2 separate regions of the Homo sapiens genome follow, and region 2 is linked to region 1. Evidence: fine-mapped expression QTL. A gene starts in region 1. The other region holds a variant in brackets. All regions are shown on one strand. Distances are between the middles of the regions.

The links. PIP is the estimated chance that this variant, and not a neighbour inherited with it, causes the effect.
Region 2: its variant is fine-mapped to the expression of DBN1 in whole blood (INTERVAL, PIP 0.97).

The regions. Positions count from the first base shown.
Region 1 is chr5:177,465,816-177,477,409 of GRCh38, forward strand. DBN1 (drebrin 1) reads right to left here and starts at 7,819. Exons shown (of 15, transcript NM_001363541.2): 1 at 7,621-7,819; 2 at 3,029-3,084; 3 at 2,293-2,405; 4 at 1,928-2,002; 5 at 1,666-1,812; 6 at 1,440-1,517; 7 at 1,096-1,247; 8 at 957-1,020. The coding sequence starts at 7,706. RefSeq lists enhancers at 1,285-1,830, 2,377-2,922, 4,561-5,106, 6,677-7,180, 7,181-7,682 and 1 more and silencers at 6,831-7,017, 6,937-7,306, 7,337-7,536, 7,617-7,996, 8,007-8,056.
Region 2 is chr5:177,549,904-177,557,903 of GRCh38, forward strand. FAM193B (family with sequence similarity 193 member B) reads right to left here and starts at 4,660. Exons shown (of 9, transcript NM_001190946.3): 1 at 4,346-4,660. The coding sequence starts at 4,555. FAM193B-DT (FAM193B divergent transcript) reads left to right here and starts at 4,725. Exons shown (of 3, transcript XR_941274.3): 1 at 4,725-5,026. RefSeq lists silencers at 3,829-3,938, 4,269-4,478, enhancers at 4,359-4,862, 4,589-4,748, 4,769-4,918 and a cis regulatory region at 7,081-7,527. The variant G/A (reference allele first, on the strand shown) is at 4,000.

The DNA.
Region 1 (11,594 bases):
TTGCATTCTACCCTGGGCGACAGAGTGAGACTCCATCTCAAAAAAAAAAAAAAAAAATACATGAATCAACTTATGAAAAAAAGATCTTACCCAGCTCGTTCTCCACCATGTTCTTTATGTGGCAGGTGGCAGGTGTGTGTTGAATGAATGACTGAGGATGGAGCTTACCAGCCACACATCATCCCCACCCCATCCAAGGGCAGATGTGACTGGAGTGACTTAATGCTGCTGCCTGCAGGACTGTCTTGCCTCCTCTCTCTCAGCCTCCTGTGGGTGACTCCGGAGCCCGTTTGAGTCCCCACAGCCATGCATCTGCCCATTACAGTCCCAATCCAGATGAGTATCAACCCACCTCCCTTCCTGAACTGAGCCATGCTCAGTCCTGAATGACATTAGCTATTTCCAAAATACTAAATTCAAAGCATGGAGATGTGACTCTGCTGTGATTCTCAGGGACCAATCCACAGGACCTACGGGCCATTCCCAATGTGTGGAGATTCAGACAGTACCCCTGGAACAAAGGGGCTGCTCCCAGGGAGATGCTGCTCCCAAGGAGATGGTACACACTGCCTGCAGATGCTCAGCACTGGCCCAGGCTCACCCATGCCGCCTGCCTCACTCCTGTGGCCCCTCAGAGTGCAGAACAGTGTCTAATCGCCGAGAAACCCCAGGGCAGGGGAGGGGGAGCCTGGTCAGTGAGGGTCTGGGTCTAGATGGAGTTTCTCTTCCAATCTAGAGCACAAGCTTCTCCAAAGTAGTCTTTTTCCACGGCCAGAGGCCAGAGCCCCACGTGATGAGGTGCCAGGCCTCATGCTCCATGGCACCCTGTGCCCATGCAGCTCCCCAGAACAGCCACCACTGTCCCTGAGCCACTGATCTCCCCACAAGGCCCAGGAACACAGGGACCATTCTCACTTCCCTGACCCAGAGACCGGGAGCCTTGGCAAAGAACTTACAAAGATAGACTGCTCCTTCAACCGCCTCTTGGCCTCTTCCGCTTCTAAAGTCTGCTGTTTCCTCCTGGAACGATAAGCAGCCAGCACCCGTCAGGGTGCGCCCGGGGGCCCCTGGAGCGCTCCGGGCGGGCAGGCTCACCTGTGCTCCTCGATCTGCTGCTCCCGCTCCCGGTAGCGCCGCTCGCGCTCCTCTTGCTCCTGCCGCTCCTGCTCCATCCGCTCCTGCTCGAACCTGAGCCTCTCATCCAGGGCCTTCTTCCGCTCCTCCTCCTTCCGCAGCTCTTCTTCCTTCTGCAAGCCCCGGTGCGAACAAGGGTAGGCCCCGAGCCTAGGCGCCTGGACCCTGCCCCTCCAGCCCCTCCCTAACCCAGCGCTGGGGGCGGGGCACGTGGCATGGGCCATGCCACTGCAGTGAGGGACTCAGACCTGCCCCATGGGGTCCATGAGGGGTGGCTCAGCCAGGCCGGGCTCAGGGTTCCATACCTTGGCCTGCTCCCAGAACTGCTCTCGGTTAATCCGCTTCATTTCCACAGCTGCATCCGTCTTCTGGTAGGTGGTGCCCTGCAGTGTCGAAGGACCCAGCATAAGCAGGCTGAATGCCCCAGGAACCCCCGACACCTAAAGGGTGAGAGCTAAGAGGGACCGGGCAGGCCAGACTCGGGCACCAGGCCACGCAGGCAGAGCCCACGGGTGCCAAACACACACTAACCACGGGCTCTGCGTTCTCATCCTCTCGCAGCCGCAGTCGGTGCAGCACAGGGCTGGAGAGTCGCGCCAGCCCGTTAGAGAGCCGCTGCCCGATGGCACCCGCGTCTATGTCTTCCACGCTGCTGGCGTTCACGATCACGTCGACACCCTTCCGCAAGAAGACGGCAGTGCTCAGGCGGCACCATCCTCCCGCCATCCCCACCCCAGCACGCAGACCCTGGTGGCTGTCCCCACCCCCAAGAGCGCTGGCCCCTGACACGCACCTGGAAGAACTCCGCCACCTTAGCCACGTGGCTGGCACAAGCGCACTTGCGGGCATCAGGCACATCTTCGCCCACCTGCAAAGTACCCAGCAAAGAGGGGGTCAGGAAAGGACAAGGGGGGCCCTACACGATAGGGTGCATCTTCCCCGGGGTGGGAAGAGGGTGGGCTTCCCTCTCCACGGGTGTCAGAGGGCCGACGGGGAGGGCGACTGCTCTGGGCCTTCAGTTCCCTTCCCCAGCCCCGGCCGCATACCCAGTTGATGAGCAGCTCTGGGCCCTCAGCCCCCTTCCCCAGCCCCGGCCGCATACCCAGTTGATGAGCAGCTCTGGGCCCTCAGCCCCCTTCCCCAGCCCCGGCCGCATACCCAGTTGATGAGCACGTATTTTGGCAGAGCAGCTTGGGAGTCCTTGACACTGCAGAAGCCGTACATCACCTTCTGGTTCTCAAAGTGTCCCGAAAGCTCCTGCAAGCCCCCTTCTAGGGTAATCAGGAGAGTGTCAGGTCTCTCTGCCTCCTAAACCCTTCCCAAAAAGAGCCTGGAACTCAAAGCAAAGACTCCTCCAGGCCTCCACAGGCACCCCCAGGGGTCTTCTGGCCTCTGGGGTCTGTGGGTCCCAGTTTTGTGTTGGTATGTGTGGGGGTGGTGGCGCACAGGGATGTAGCTTTGCCTGTGACTCCTGCAGGGCCTGATTTGGGGGTAGGACTGAGGAAGTGTTTGTTCTTCACACTCAGGTCTCATTCTTCACACATCATCATGTCTCACCAGGTGCCAGTGCCCAGAGGCACAATCAAGCCTTCTGGCTCTGGGGAAGGCGGTGAATAGGGCCCTTCCCCCAAAGTGTCCCAGCTGTGTGGCTTCAGATAAGTCACTTTCCCTGTTGGAGGCTCAGCCTCAGAAGTCCAACATTCAACAAGGCTCTGAGATTCCTCCCCACCCTGGGGACACAGGGATGACTGGAGGAAGGACACCCGCCAGATCCAGACAAGTGTGGGGCTGCAGGGTGCAGGCAGGGAGGTGGCCTACAGCCAGGTGGGTGGGGAAGAAAACAACCAGGAGGAGGGGGTGGAGAAGGCGGCGAGGGAATGGCTGGAATTCCTACCTCCTGATGCTGCAAGCTTGAGGTCATCGGAGCCATCTTCATATGTGTACAGAGCCCTGGGGAGAGGGAGGGGTGGCTGTCAAACTGTCAGGGCCCAGGCCGCCAATTCTGGGTGGGGACGGCTCTGGGGAGGGAGAGGGACATGGAGTGGGTAGGACAGGAACGGGGAGGGCTCCTGCTGTAGCCATGACAACAGGGCCAGGCATCGGTTCAGGCGGGAGCCCAGCAGGGTACTGCTGGAGGCCTGGGTCAGGGGGGCGCAGGCAGTGAGGGGAGAAATTGCTGGCTGGTCGAGCTCAGTGCGCAGCATCCCGGCCCTGGCCCTGGCAGCCTACAACCCAGTGGAGCGGGTGTGTGATGGAGATTCCAAGGCGACGGTTCCTTGGTTACCGTTCCCTGGCTACCAGGATCCTCATCCCCCATTGGCTAGTGCCAGGAACTTACCTGGCACGTGCCTTGGTCCCCGCTGCCCCTCCCCCGGGGAGGGAGGAGGAGAAGAGAGAACCTGGTGCTCCCAACAGCTCTGGGCATCCCCCAGTAACCATGGCAACCCTGCAATTGGCACACGACTGGCCCACCCCAACTGCATTCTCCTTGAACACAAAGGACCCTGGGGACCCGCCCTCAGCCTCAATCTCCGCCTCTCTGAAATGGGGATGAGGTCACTGCAGTCACTCTCGCCCAGACTCTGGCCCCGGGGTGGCCAAGCCTGAGCTCCAGGCCTTCCAGCCCCTAGGCTGCCTCAGTCCTGGCTGAGGCTTCCTGAGACTGCTGGCCTTTCCTTCTGTCTGAGCTCTAACAGAAAGCTGACCTGGTGGCCTTCCTCCTTCCTCCTCCTCCCTAGCTTTGTGTGCCCTGGCTCCTTTTGATAGGCTGCGGTGACAGAGCAACCATTGCACAGAAGGGAAGGCAGAGATGCCTCCTCCATCACCCCATGCAGGCCCAGGCTGAGGACCCTCTGGGAGGGAGGAGAGCCGGGGCCTAGGAGGAAGGGCCTTGTCCCTGAAGTTTGAAAGGGCTCTCAACCCCTTCTCCAAACTCCTATTCCCCAGGTGCCAAGGCAGGAGGCTGGGGCTGTGAGGAGGGGAGGCAGAAAGGGAGGGCAAGGGAGAAGAGAAAGAGGAGGGGAGAAGCAGAGGGAGAAACCAGGAGAGGAGGAAGAAGAGAAAGGACAGAAGTGAAGGGACAAAGGAAATGAAGGCGGGAGGGATGGAGGGGACGTCTCAGGAGGTTGTGGCCAGGGCCAAATGGCCTCAGCCCCTCCCCTTCCTGGATTCCCGGCTTCCTACCTCCAGGAAGGAACACAGGTGGGCTGTGGGGCTGGGAGCTCCTGGTCCAACTGTTACCCCCAGCCCCAGCCTGGCCCTGACAGATGCTTCCAGCACAGCTGGCCCACCACCTGTCCTGCTGCCCTAACCCACCACGGGAACAAAGGGCCCTGGGAGAAGCAGGCTCTGTCTCTCTCCATGCACTGATGAGAAACTAATGCAGAGCCCAGGGACCCTAGTTCCTAGAGACTGCTGTAGACATCAAGCCTCCCTCTGAGAGGACCTGTCTTGGCCTGCCTAGGCTCCCCGGGGTGCCTTCCATCCTCAGCCCCTGGCTCCCCACCTCCGGCCACCTCTTCCTGCTCCAGCCGCAGCTCTCCCCCAGCAGAAACCATACCCCAGTTCAAACCCTCCAGCCTGCCTTTCCATTGGACCACCCTGTCCACACCACACACTTGGGACACACTGGACGGCTCCCTGACCCAAGCAGGGTTCTGGACAGGGCTCACCCTGAAGCCTCTGCCTATGTAGTTCTCTTCACGTGGAAGGCAAGACCTGCTCCTCTACCCCACGCCTATTCCCAGTGGAATGCTTCCGTTCTTCAGAGCCCAGTGCTGGCCCCCAGCAGCCTCTCCTGAGCTGCCCCTCCCAGAGCACCCACCATATCCCAGCAGGAATACAAAGACCAGTGCTTCTCAACCACATCAGAGGCACCCCGAGCCTGGTGGTGCACCAGGTGGAAGCTGGCGAAACCACAGGGAATCAGGATGGGGTAGGCGACCAGGCATCTACACATCTCACCAGCTCCAACTCCTGGAGACAGACACTGCCCCCAGCTGTAAGCCTGGTGAAGGCAGGAACGCTGACTCAGTCAATCAGCACATCCTGCTCTCTGGGTCCTGGGGTCCAGCACACCGCATACCAGAAGTATGTGTGATATTGACACCAACTCAAAAGCCATCTAGCCAGATAAACTGAACTAGCGTGAGGTGGGAGCTGGAATGTGGCAGTTCCAGAGACCCTGGGGTGAGCTGGGATGGGGGGTGAGCTGGGGTGGAGGGTGAGCTGGAGTCGGGGGCTGAGGGCAGGTGGACCCCGCAGGACCATCACTCTCAGGATGGTGGTGCTAGAAAGGCCTTCAGTATCCGAGGTAGTGCTGGGCCCAATCCCTTTTCTTTCCAAGAGGACCAGGAACTTGTGTATGATCACAGTGAGTCATATCACAACCAGGACAACAGTGGCCCTTCCCACCACACAACCTCATTTCCTGGGTCCCCTGCTCCCTGTGCCAGAGTAGTGGTGCACTTCAGAGGCCCTGCCACCTAGGAGTGAACTCCCCCAACCACCCCTCCCCATTGGAGGCAAGGTAAGGGTCGGGGGGCAGACAGCAATTTACCCAAGACACCCCTCCCTCTGGACCTATGTGCAGGGTCTGCCTCTGAGTCTTCAGACCTCACTGCACCCCTGGTTCCATGCTGGGCCCTGGGGTATTCATATTCTCTTGTGTAGAAAGTGATCCTCACACCCCTTTTTCAAAATGTTATCTGGGCCCTTAGTGAACGAATGTGTGCATGTGCGAGGGTACATGTGTGCATCTGTGTGTGTCCCACACACAACCCAGATGGGGGCTGACGCACACCAGTGATGAATAACTCGCTTTGGCCACACGGATGCTGCTGGGGTGGGTGGGGGCAGGCCTGTGTTGAGCAGGATGTGGGGCAACAGGGGTTGTGTGGCCTTGGCAATAGGCCACCAGAGCTCTGCTTTTAGGAGAAAATGGGGTGTTGGTAGACAACACCCCTCCAGGCTGGAGGGCAAAGGAGGTGTTCTGGGGTGAGCTGTGCTTCTCCCCAGGCGGGGCCTTATCCCAAAGCCAGCTCCTTCACCAGGCCAAGCCGGCCACTTGCCCAGAGCTCCTCCCATGATCTCAGCCCCCCTGGGGCAGGGCTGGGACAATGGGTGGGCCGCCTGCCTGCTGAGCCTGTGCCGGCCTCTCCTGTGACTGACCTGCAGGACACGAGAGCTTGTCTCTCGCGTCCATCCCTCCAGGCCTGGCTGCTGGCCAGTGCTGCAGTACCATGCCATGGATGCCCAGCCATCTCATCCTCTCCTCCAGAAGCCCCCAGGTCAGAGTCCCCACCTGGCTGCCCTCCCAGTGTGCGGGTGAGGCCAGCCCAAGCGGGGTCCCTCAGACCTGCCCTCCTCTTTGCCTCAGTTTCCTCAAGAAGAACCTGTTCCCATCTGCCAGCAGGGAGAGGAGGCCTAGGAACCAGATGGGCACCTTCCCTAGAAGAAGAGTATTACGGGGGGGTTAAAGGATTCCAGGATGGGGCTGTGAGGAACCCCTCGGTTTCCTTTTTCCACCACCCTGGGCCGCCAGCCCCAGAGCAGGTGGTCCATCCCCTCCCCCAGCTCAGCGGGAGACAACAGCTGGGGGGCGGGGTGAGGGGCGGCCCAGCTCCTCCCCCATCAGGGACCGAGTGCCCCTTGCTGGGGGCCGGTGGATCTGTTCACCCCTTCAGCCGTCTTTGGGGGCTCCCTCCACACTTGTTCTCCAGAGGGCTTCCTCCCAGGGATCTCAGCTGGCCCCTTAGGCAGCTCGGTGCCCCCCAGCCCAGCTGCCTAGTCCCCGCAGTCCCCTTCAGGTAGGGGAGGAGAGCTCACCCCTGCCTCCTCCGCGACCCGCGGCGGTAAGGGAGTCACTTCGCGGTCGCCATGTGGCAGCAAACATCCTTCCACCTCACTCCAGCCCAGGTTTCGGGGGGAGGGCGGCCCACTCCGAGAGGCCCCCCGGTGGGCGGGGCGCCCGGCCCCCAGCCCGCTCCGCTCCTCCCCCGCCCTCGCTTTCCTTTGTGCTGTGGCCGGGCCGGGCTGAGCCGGGCAGGCTGCGCTGGCTCCGCTAGCTCGGTCCCCGCCCCGTCCCCGCCCGGACCTCGCCCGCTCGAAGGTGGCGAAGGTGCCCTTGGCCGCCCCGTGCACACCTGTCCCCCGGGCCCGGGGGGTAGGGTGGGGGATGGGCTCCCGCAGGGCCACGCGGCCCCGGGCCCCACATCGGGACCCCGCGCCTCCGGGCCGCGTCCGGCCGCCGCTCCCACCGCGCGCCTTGGGCCGCCTCCGGGCGCTCGGGGCCCGGCAGTGCCCCGCCTGGCCCGCCGGCCCCTCCCCCGGCGCGCACAAAGGCAGCCCCTCCCGGCCCTCCCGGCCCGCTGCACCATTTCGGGGTCCCCCTCCCTTCCCGGCGGCGGGGCGGCGGGGCGGGAGAGAAACAAAGGCGCGGCGGCGGCGCGGGGACAAAGGGGCCGGGGGCGGGGGCGGGGGGCTCACCAGTCGGCCGCGCTCTCCTCTCGGATCACCTCCTCGTAAGCCGCCAGCAGCTCCAGGCGGTGGCCGCTGAAGCTGACGCCGGCCATGCTTCGGGCCGGACCGGGCCGAACGGACAGACGCGCGGACGGACGGGCGGACGGAGGAGGAGGGAGGGAAAGAGGGAGTCGCCGCCGCCGCCTCGGAGCCTCTGCAGCGTCGCGAGCCGAGCGAGCCAGCGGCCGGGGGAGGGGAGCCGGCCGGCGGGGGGCGGGGGGCGCTGGCTCCGCCCGGCTCGCTCCCTCCGCTCGCTCGGTCCTAGCGCCGCCCCGGCCCGGCCCAGGGGGAGGCCCGCCCCCCCTTCCCGGCCTGCCCCGGGCGCCCCTCACCCACCGCCCCTGCGCGCCGCTCCAGGGCCAGCCCCACCCACGTCCCGAACCCTCACCTGCCCCGTCCGTAACCTCGGCGCTAGCCCTCCTTCCAGCCCCGAACCCAGTCCCGTCCCCACCTCCCCCCGCCCACCCCCCGTCCCAATCCGGTTCCGCCCCACCCATTGCTTCATTGATCTCCATTCCTGGTGCGTCCCACCTCATGTTAAACCCATTTTCATCCCAACCCAGCTCACACAACACCCCACCCCTGGCCCGTCTCCTTTCCCTGAGAGGTCCTTGCCTAGTCTATCCCATCATATCCACTGTCATCTGCATCCCACCCTCAAATCCACCCCAGTTGCTTTCCCATCCCAGCTTCAGCCCCATGCTTAGCACGTGTCCCCCCCAACATGTGTCACGGCACATCTTCAGTCCAACCCATCCCAGTCTCATCCTGATCCCAGTTCCCAATTCCCAACCACAGCCCCCCATCTCGGCTCCATGACCACTTATTCCAGGCCATTCTCAGCCCCTACCCAGCTCATTATCCCTCCATTCCAGGCCTCTCCTCCCCTCCACGCCTGTGCCCTCTCAGATGGGGCCAGCTAGGAGATCCTTTGCATTCTCTCTCAAGCCTCACGCCTCCCAGAGGAGTCCCAAGTAGAGTTCCGGAAGCAGCATCTAACCCCAGACTCCCACGGCAGGGCTCCTCCAAGGACGCTCAGGGCCAGCCTCTTGGCACCTTTATCTCCTAAAGCTCTAAGCACAGAACGGGAGGGGGCCTCAGAAAAGTACCCCCTGCAAGGGAGTGGACACCATGCCAGGGCCTTCCAGAACTCCGTTCCTTGCTAGGTTGGGACCCTGAAACCGTCCACAGCGCTTAGAAGCCTTTTCCACCACTACAAAGCCTCCAACCTCGACCTCCCTGAGCAAACTTCACCTGGTCCCAACCGCACCGCGGAGGAGGAGGTGGTTCTAGCCAGGCCTCCGAGTTCTGCGTTGGGTAATTGGCTATGCCAAGAGAAGGAGAGCAGGGCTGCCTATGTGGCAGTGTTCCTGGCGCTTTGGAGTTGGGAGAACCCTCTTAAAACTCAAAATACTCACAGGCCCCTGCCTTGGGAAGTCAGTGCCCACTATGTCTAGGGACCACAGGCCATGGCAATTTCTCCATGGCCACCACTAGAGTGAGGCACCCAGGCAGGGACACAGCCAGGCCCTGTGCCCTAGACCAACTGGCCAGTAGGTGTGGTTGGCCTGCCATGGGGATCCCTAAGGGAGTGGGTGACACATGGTGGGGAAGGGAAGTGGGGAGAGCCATGGAGGGACAGAGCTTCAGCCATCCCCCACCCTTAGGCATGAAGAGCCTGATTCTGGTGAGGAGGGAGACCCTGCAGCCGGGGAGGGGCAGCAGATGGCTGGCCATGAGCATCTGTGGCCTCAGCCTCTTCCAGCTTCCTTTGATTTGTCCTAGCTCACAGCTCCTCGCCCCCCCCGCTCCCCTCACCCCCCAGCCTCCTGCACACTCAATTTTGCATCCAAAAAACAGAAGCCCTAAATGCATCTAAGCTCTTCCTTCCTCAAATTCCTGCCTCCCCACCAGCCACCTACAAACTCTCCAGCCACGCCCACTCTCACCTCTTGCCATCAACATTTTTAAATAAACTTTCTATTTTAGAACAGTGTTAGATTTACAGAAAAGTTACAAAGATAGTATAGAGAGTTCCCATACACCCTGCACTCAGTTTTCCCTATTTTCAGGGAAGCAAGGGTGTTCCCTGCTGGCATGCCCTAGAGCCCACTCCCCTGGTCTCCGCACCCGTCACCCTTCCAGGTTATCTTCATCCCCTCATTTCTATAGGATGCAGACAGACATCTGTCCTCTGTCTCCTCCTCCCCGCATTTTCTCTGGCACTGCTCTGGCCAAGGTCACCAGTAACCCCTAACTTGCCAAACTCAGTGGACCCATAGTTCTCAGTTGCCCTGACTGGTGGGAGTGGGTGGCCACTGGTCACTGTCCTCTGAGAACCTGCCTCCTTTCAGCTGCTGTTGCCCCTGAAGCCCACACACTCAGCCTTGGTGGGTGGGAGGCTGGTGGGTTCCTCCTACCAGGACTTCGTGTCTGCCACCCCCAAACCGATCACCCTTCAAGTCACTGACAGGTCGGTCTCTCCCACCCCCAGAGCATGAGCTCCCCCTACACACAGCGGGAGGCTGGGCCAATGACTTCTGGATCCCCAGAGTGGAAAAGATGAGACAAGGGAGGACTGAGATCCAGAAACTGGGCCTTTGCTGTGTGACCTTGGCTGAAACACTTCCCCTCTCTGAGTTTCCTTTTGATAACCTGTTGTGAGAATAAAATGGGACTGGATGGAGGCTTAGAAGGAGAACCCCCTCCCTCCCTCCCTCCTCACAGCCCCACCCTCCTCCCTCCACCCCCACCTTCCTGTTCTGTGCTCCCCCACACCTCTCCGGGAAGGTTTTAGGGCTGAGGGGAGGCTGCAAGACTTTTTCAGCAAGAGCTGGTGGAGTCTTCTCTGGCCTCTTCCAACCTCTGCAAGATCCCACCAAGCACACACACAGATTGCCCCTTGATCATCACAAAGCTCATGGCTGTTCCCAGGTATCTGCCCCCGGCGCCGGGCCAGCCACGTTCATTCACATTAGCTCTGCTCCTGAGGAGTCTATTGCTAATGGTGTGACCTTGAGCTTGGTGCCTGACCTATCTTGAATCACTCATCTTCAACTGTAATATGGGGGTGATAGTGATGGTACCTACCTCCTAGGGTCAGTTTGAGGATTTTCAAAAAGTATCTAGGAAGTGCTTAAAATGAGACCAGGACATAGTAGGTGCTGTCAATGTGTTGATTGTTATTATTAGTTTACAGATGGGAATACTGAGGCCCAGAGAGAGTCAGTGACTTGCCCGGAGACACACAGCTTTGTGTCCCATTCAGACACAAAGTCTGAATGGGAACCCAGGTCTGTCCCAGGTCATTTCGGTACCCCACACACCCTCCCCGCTTCCCCTTGTAGCACCCCTATTTCTGCATGCAGGGGTGAGGTGGGCTGGAGTCTGATCAGAAGTTGCAGATGCTCCAGCTCTGAGGTCTGGGAGTGGAGTCGGGGGCGGGGCCCTGGGCATGAGGGGAGGAAGTGCCATGGACCTCCCTGCCAGGCCTGCTCCGCCTCCCGTTTTCTGGCAGACTTTCCACTTTCAGCTCTAAACAGGAGTATGTCGTCCAAGCCAGGAAGGGTCAGACCCAGTGACTACTTCAGAGACAGACACATGACCCAAGTTAGTCCAATGGGCGTTGGCCCTCGGACTTTCGCTGGCGCCATTAAGAAAGCCTCCCTTGCCGGGAGCGGTGGCTCACGCCTGCAATCCCAGCACTTTGGGAGGCCGAGGCGAGCAGATCACGAGGTCAAGAGCTCAAGATCATCCTGGCCAACATGGTGAAACCCTGTCTCTACTAAAAATACAAAAATTAGCTGGGCCTGGTGTTGCATGCTTGTAGTCCCAGCTACTCAGGAGGCTGAGGCAGGAGAAACGCTTGAATCCGGGAGGCGGAGGTTGCAGTGGGCTGAGATCACACCACTGCACTCCAGCCTGGGCCACAGGGCGAGACG
Region 2 (8,000 bases), 82 kb after region 1:
AGGTCCACACACAATATATTTCCCCCCAAATAAATTAAAACATAGACCCTGCTCTAAAAAATTCTAGATGAGGTAAGTAAAGGTGTTAGGATCATCCATCTGATATCAAAAATTAAAAATTTAAAACTCAGCTGGGTGTAGTGGCATGCACATGTAGTCCCAGCTATTTGGGAGGCTTAAGGAGAAGTATCACTTGAGTCCAGGAGTTTGAGGATAGCCTGGGCAACATAGCAAGATCCTATCTCTAAATTAAAAAAAAAAATTAAAATCCTAAGTGGGTAAGTCTTCATTTTCAAAGGTCTTTTGACATTTTTATATAGTGAGTCTCTACTGGCTTACAAAGAAGAACCAGAGGTGGCAAGGATCCCCTCAGTATCATTTCCTCCTACTGACAATGGAAGTAGTGCAGGCTGGGTAGGCACTGATTCTAAGGGGGAGGTCCCCAAAGATAGGAACTATCTTATCCATCTGTGCACCCCAAATAAAGGTCCTGGCACAGAGGTGGTTTTGGTATCTGCTGAGTGAATTAAACATAATGAGATGCTTTTATTAAAGATACTGACTAATCATCTGCTCCAATTTCTTGAGGGAACAGTGGAAGAATCGGATCTCTAGAGTCCCTTTAAACTAGACTGGGCAAAGTCCCAGAGGACAATGTGGAGGGAACAAGAGGTGGGGAAGGGTAGGATGAGTTCACCTCTCCTCACCAACTGCTGGCTTACATCCTAGCAAGTCTCCTGGGGGCTTATTGAGTGTACACTGGATTACAAACTCAGTGGTCCAAGAGAGATGAAAGACAGCTAGCAGAGCTAACAGGCCAGAACACTCAGGCTTTGTATGGCCACCTGGCACAGCTCCTGCCCCCTCTCTTAGGTGAGGCGCTTCTATGTACTAGCTGCTGCATAGGTTGCTTCTCTTGTGAAGTATTATTATTATTTTAAAAGGAGACGGTGTTTCCCTCTCTCCCCCAGGCTGGGGTGCAGTGGCGTGCACATGAAGTCCTGGGTAACTTAATTCCTGGGTTCAAGCAATCCTCCCGCCTCAGCATCCCAACTAGCTGAGACTATAGGTGTGAACCCATGCCCAGCTAAGTTTTGATTTTTTTTTTTTTATAGAACCAGAGATCTCACTATGTCACCAATGCTGGTCTCAAACTTCTGGCCTCAAGAGATCCTCCTGCCTCAGCCTCCCAAAGTGCCGGGATTACAGGCGTGAGCCACCAAGGCCTCTTGTGAAGTTCCTGATGGGGTCAGAGAGAAGCAACTTGCGGAGTCACAAAGCTAGGAGGCTAAGCTGGGAATTCAATCCAAGTCTCTAAACACTATTCCCCACTGCCTCCTACAATTGCTTTTTCAGTTGTTCTTTATTTTTTTTTTTGTTTGTTTTGTTTTCCTTTGCTAATAAGGTAGTAACTGTTTCAGCCTTCTTGTGCTATAAACGAGGATTTGGGTTGTTAGGAAACAGATCAATGTGGTTTAGTGGCCTGAAACAATTGAAAGCCATTTGGGATCCCAATTAAACTCAAGGTCCTGCTTTAAATGTGTACAGGTTATGCCAATGAGTGAAGGGGCCTGGAAAGAACCAAAGATGCCTAAGGAGCATACGCTGTCTAAAAGGGCCAAATGCTACTCAGAGACTACTGATTACTGCCTTGTGGAAAAGTGGACCCAGCATCACCATATCTTTAGTTTAAAAAAGAGCCCCAAATCCAAATGTGTGGGAAACCTTTTGATCTTTAAAATATTGGCTCAAATGAAAATAAAAACAGAAACAAAACAATATGTGAGCTGGGGCATTACAACAAGCCTGTGGACTGGAAGTGGTCTTATTTGCCACCTTTGGATTCAGTTTGGTATATGACACTGAGTTTCATCTTCCTTATCCACTCTGTAGATGTAAGACAGGGTTATGAGTGGCAATGGGAGCCAGAGTTCCTCACCAAAAACACGCTTGTAGGCAGAGCAATGACTGAACCCTACCCTTACACTAGGTGCTTTGCACCAGGGCACAAAAGCCTGCTTCCAGACCCCACCCCCGGTCAAAGTGGGGCATAACTAGAACCGAATTTACCAGTTTGTTTCCCTTCTTTGGGGCTATAGTTTAAAAAAAAATGCCTTGTTGAAAATCCCCCAAAGTACCTAAAAGTCCTTTTCTTTTCTTTTGTCTGACACCTACAGTTGGAGTCATTTGGGCAAATGTTTAGTTGCTCTGAGTTTCTGTTTCTTCATCTGAAAAATGGAGTAATGATAATTATATCCTCCAGTTTGTTGATCAATATTTGTTAACCACCAGGCACAGGGGTACAATGGTGACTGACATGGCTCCTGAACTCGCAGAGTTCACAAATAAAAACAAATAATCACATCAATGGTCAATTCATCATATTTGTGCTAAACGCTGCGGAGAAATACAGGTGAGGTGGGAAGATTAGAAGTAAGGTATGTAAAGTGCCTGGCACAAATAAATGAATCAGCAGGTCAAGTAGTGGAGTAGGTAAGAACATGGTAGGAACCTAGATGTCAAAGAAATTGATGAAGCTTAGAGCTCTTGGCAAAGTTGTGTCCTTAATAAAAACTGAATGGTTGAGCCATCATCCAAGCTTTTTGGCATCTCTATGTGGCAGAGACCCTGAAGTATTCTATGGTCTGCTGAATGGGAAGAAGAGAAGACAACAGCTTTCCAGCTCTCCCTTCTCCCACTCTCCCTTTTTGGATAACAGCACTCCCACGGGGGTCCCAGAGTAGGCTGGTGGGGGAAGCAGCTTTGGGGTTGGAAGCTAGACCCAGTAGGGGTTGGGGGTCCAACCTGGGGAGTCTCCTACGGAAGTGTCAGCCTAGGATAGGAGATGGGGATGCGGATGAAGGTGGAGCTTCTGACACTCAGTAAGTGCTGACATTTTCATTAATTAAAAACCTTATTGTGATCTGAGACACAAAGGAAATCAGCATGAAAACTGGGTTACAATAAGCACGGGTTCTGGACCGATTCATTTTCTCTCTCATTCACCTAGTTATTTTTATTCTGTGTTAGCAAGGCCCTGGGCGAGGCGTGGAAGATCAGAGAAAGATGGCATAGCCTGTGTCCCTGTGGAGTTCACAGTCCAGGGCAGGCAACAGACATATCAACACAATGTTTCATCACAGAAAGGGGAGTGCTACCAGAGGGAGGCACAGAGGGCTGTGGGCACAGAGAGGGCACCTGACGCAACTGGGGAGGTCAGGGGAGGCTTTGTGGGAAGGTACCCCAAACGGCAACCCCACTCACATGCACAATTCCAGAGATTCTACTAGAAGGCTGTCAAGAGCCATGCCTTCTGGCTGCACCAGCCTCCCAGAGTCCCCTGCTGCCCGATGCAGTGTCTGCAGAGCCAAACGCATCTTCCGCCACGCCTCATCCTCATCCGGCGCCGCATCCGACCCTCCAAGACTCCTGCAGGAGCCTGCCTTCCTGGGCAGGCTCAGCCAAAAGACCAACTCAAAACTCTTTTGTCAGAGCAAGCTTAGGGAGAGCCACCCAGCCCCGAGTGCCACAACCCTCCCAGAGCAACCGTGGCCCATGTCACCCCCGCCTCTCAGTGAACTTTGGCAGGGTACCTCCCGTTATCTCCTTTGCTCAAAAGAAAGTGACCTTCTTCCAGGTGGCAAGCTGGAAGCTTTGGGGAATCCTCCTACTGTTCGCTCTCAGCAGGATTCTCCAAACCTGGGATCTCAAGGTCGGGGTGGGCTGCCTTGCGGAGCAGGGGAGGGAAGAAGGGCAGGTTCTGCTGGGTTTCCACCTCAGTGCAGAAACCCCACCAAAAACTCCTCCGGGCAGCCTGGCTGTCTGCTCCAACTGCTCTGCTGGGTATGGCGAGGAGGCGCCAGGAGACACAGCTGCTGAGGGGGCCGCGGCTGCAGGCGCTGCAGGGGACGGAGTGGAGCCGTTCCCGGGGGCAGAGGGAAGAGGCTGCAGTCGTCCAGTCCCAGAGCCCCGAGATGGCCTGTGGCTGAGGGAGCAGGT[G/A]GGCCCGGGGGAGGTGGCGGGCCGAGAGCGGAGCTGCGGCCTCGGGATCACAGCCCAGTCCCAGTCCCAGTCCCAGTGTGGGTGTACGGCCGGAACGCCCGGAGGCGGCGGGGAGAGGGGAGCAGCTTCAGCCTAGTCGCAGGAGCGCGGACCGAGCCTCGGCTTTGGGGAGAGGGGTCCAGCCTCCATTCCCGCCCCGGGGGAGAAAGCTTCGGCGCCGGACCCGGGGGAAGGCTGCTACCCCAGCCGCGGCAGGATGGCCCATCCCCAACCCCGCCCCACTCCCGCTCCCGCTCGGGGAAGGTGAAAGCGCCCGAGCCGCCGAAGTCTCCCCGCTCGCTCCTACCTGCGGGCCGGGCACCAGGTTGGGTTCGTCATCCTCCCTGGGGCCGTCGTGGTCGGGCTCCGCCGGCGCCTCCGGAGGGCCTGCACCCGCTCCCGCCTCCAGGCTTGGCGGCGGCGGGGGCTCGGGCGCCTGGGGCTTCTGCGGCCCCGCGGCCCGAGCCCGCTCGCGCCTGCCCGCACCGCCGCTCGGCCTGCTCCGCCTCCGCGTCATGCCGCCGCTCGCGCCGCTCCCTCGCTCCACACGCCGCCGCCGCCGCCGCCGCCGCCGCCGCCGCCGCCGCCGCTACCGCTCCCCTCACAGGACAACAGCCAATATGGCGGCGCCCGGTTCCCCCCCTCCGCCTGCTGCCAACAGGTCAGAGGGCACGCGGAGTCCGCGCCGCCGCACTAGCCCCCGAGGCCGCCTGCGCCATTTTGAATAAGGTCACCACCCGGAGTTCGCTGGGAGAAAAACTTGGTGGGGAGACGCCCTTCCCCCCCTACGCGGGACGGGAAGGATGCAACCTGCTGGAGGAACGCGTGTAATGCGGTGGTAATCGCGCTGCACCACCCTAGCACTTAATAATTGCCTGTTAAATGGATGAGTGAATTAATTTCTATAGTGTTACAATACTTTCACACCCATCGTCTGACTCCTTCCGACAGCACAGCGAGGCAGGTACGGATCATTCCCATTTTGCAGGTGAGAAATATTGAGGCAACATAAAGGCCTGGAAAAGGTTGCTGTACATCATTTTGTTGGAACTCCTGGGCTCGTGGACGGCCTGAGTTGAAAGGGACGAAGGTCTTTATTTGCAACATATGGTCTACTGGGAGTCCAGCGTTCTGTGCTTGGGACAGTGGGACTCAAACCCGACTCCTTGTTCCCGAGTCTGATGGGGAAGGTAGACACGTAGGTACATAGTTACAACCGGTGTGATAACGATGAGACGACTAGGTGTTTCCAAAAAAATAGTATGTGCAGGAGAGGATTTTGGAGTGGTACACAAAGGAGAATTTTTAAAACTTAATAATTATGTATTTAATTGTTAAAAATGGAATTTCCCCCCTCTTTTTGTGAATATACTGTATAATACATGTACATGGCACAGATTAAAAAAAAAAAGTTTTGAGTGAAGTCTGTCTCATGCCTGGGCTATGTACTCTGAAATTGTGGTTATATGCAGAGTTGCTATTGGTATCAACAGGGGCGGAATCCTGACACTGGCTTCCTAACCCATGGGGCAAGGGCTATTTTGAAAGGAAGAGCTACATGGAAGGCCCTGGAGCTCTCCTTAACTACCAAGAAAATAAATCAAAAATAGTACCTTATCTCACCCAGGGATTAATGCCACTATCAAAGATTTGAAAGACGCAGGGTGAGTCCCATCACATCACCATTACCTCTTCAGTTTGCCCAGAACAGAAGAGAGACGGCCTTGAAGAACAACAGAGCATTATGATAAACTTACTTATTCTGGTAAGAACCCCAACTGCAGGCATTCTTCCAGATGCGGTCCTTCTTGGGACAGATCAGCACAGTTGTTGGTCTCTAATAGGCAACAAGAGGTCTGGTCAATGGTTATTCTTCTGTACCAAACACCAGGAATCCCTTGCATTGATCTGGCAGGGGCAGCGGTAAACCCTCACTGTCTTGCTTCAGGGTATGTCACACTCTGGACCCAGCCACTTAGTTTACAGGGATTTTTTTTTTTTTTTTTTTTAATGACAGAGTCTCACTCTATCTCCCAGGCTGGAGTGCAGTGGCGCAATTTCAGCTCACTGCAACCTCCGCCTCCTGGGTTCAAGGGATTCTCGTGCCTCAGCCTCCAGATTAGCTGGGATTAGAGGCACATGCTACCACGCCCCCTAATTTTTTTGTATTTTTAGTAGAGACGGGGTTTCCCCGTATTGCCCAGGCTGGTCTCGAATTCTTGACCTCAGGTGATGCACCTGCCTCGGCCTCCCAAAGTGCTAGGATTACAGGCGGAGCCACTGCACCCTGCCAGTTTACAGGGATTTTTTTTACTAAATCTCCATTCTAATGGATATCAGGCTAATCTGCTGAGGCACTGATGACATCATCTTGATGGACCTTAAGAAAAGGGAATAGCAGATATCCTGGATGATTTGGTAAGGCATGATGTGTGTGCCAGAGGATGGATAATAAATCTCACAAATATATAGGGGCCTCGCAGTAAGCCATCTAGGAGTCTGGGATATGTTGAGATATTTCGTACAAAGTGAAGGGAAAGCTGCTGTAGATCACACTCCCTACTAGGGAAGAGGTGCAATACTTGGGCTGGGGCTTCTTTAGACTTGGTAGGTAACATAGATGTATTTCGATACATTATTATTATTATTATTATTATTATTATTATTATTATTATTATTATTATTTTGAGATGGAATCTCTGCCACCCAGGCTGGAGTGCAGTAGCGGGATCTCTGCTCACTGCAACCTCTGCCTCCCGGGTTTGAGTGATTCTCCTGCTGGCCTCCGGAGTAGCTGGGGTTACAGGCGCGCACCACCATGCTCAGCTAATTTTTGTATTTTTAGTAGAGACAGGGTTTCACCATGTTGGTCAGGCTTGTCTCGAACTCCTGACCTCCTGAACCTCCGGCCTCAGCCTCCCAAAGTGTTGGGATTACAGGCATGAGCCACCGCGCCCGGCCTGTACTTAGGTACGTTATTTTGACCAGTTACTGGGTCACTTGAAAGCTGCCAACTTTAAGGCAGGATCATACAAAAAGAGAAACTTTTCTTAGTGGACCAGGCTGCAGAGTAAATAGTTCTGGCTTTGGTCTTAATACTCAAGCATTGGATTTTGGAGCAAACTTATGCTTTCCTTCAGCAAATAGTTATATTCCATTTTAGAAATAGCTCCTGGCTTGCTTCAGGGGTCTGGTGAAATTGGATGCCTGATCCTGGCCTACTAGGTGACCACGTGACCTGAACTGAGTGTTATCTGATCTACTCAGCCATAAAATCAGGGGTGCTCAGCAACACCCTGTCATCGAGAGGAAGTGACATGTGTGGGTTGGGTCCATGCAAGTCCTAAAGCACAAGTAGGTTGCCAGAGCAAGTTACTTACATTCCTCTGCTGCCACCCTCTTCTCCATTCCATCCTTCAACCTGGATCAGTGGTTTCATGAACGGTTTAATGATGAGTTGACTAAGGAAGAAAAATCCAAAGTCCAGTTTGCAGATGGCTCTGCATGGTGTGCTGGCTCCAGCCAGAAGCAAATTGCTAGAGTGTTCTAGTCTTCCTCAGACAGGGCCCAAGGGCACAGAAAAGGGAAATCCACGCAAAGACCCTGAAATAAAGACACATCAATTCCTGGCCATTGGATCATGATTTACTCTGTTGTTGAGGGACTTGAGGGAAAAAAAGACTGCAGGCTTAGTGACAGGAAGTTCTGAGGATGACAGATGTGGAAAGATTGTCCAGAATGGCTTCAGAACATAAGGCTATTTGTGTCCCAGATGAACGTTCATCAAAAGAACCTCTTAAAAGTCCGATGGGCAGTATGGCCCCTTCTGTGGCTGTCAGACTGTCTCTTCCCAGCTATTTAAGAACTTATTCAATGGCTGCATGAGAAAACTGGCTCAGCAATTTGGACTGTCTCCTCCCTGAGGCTGGCTGACCTATCTACTCTCAGTGCTGAGTCCAATT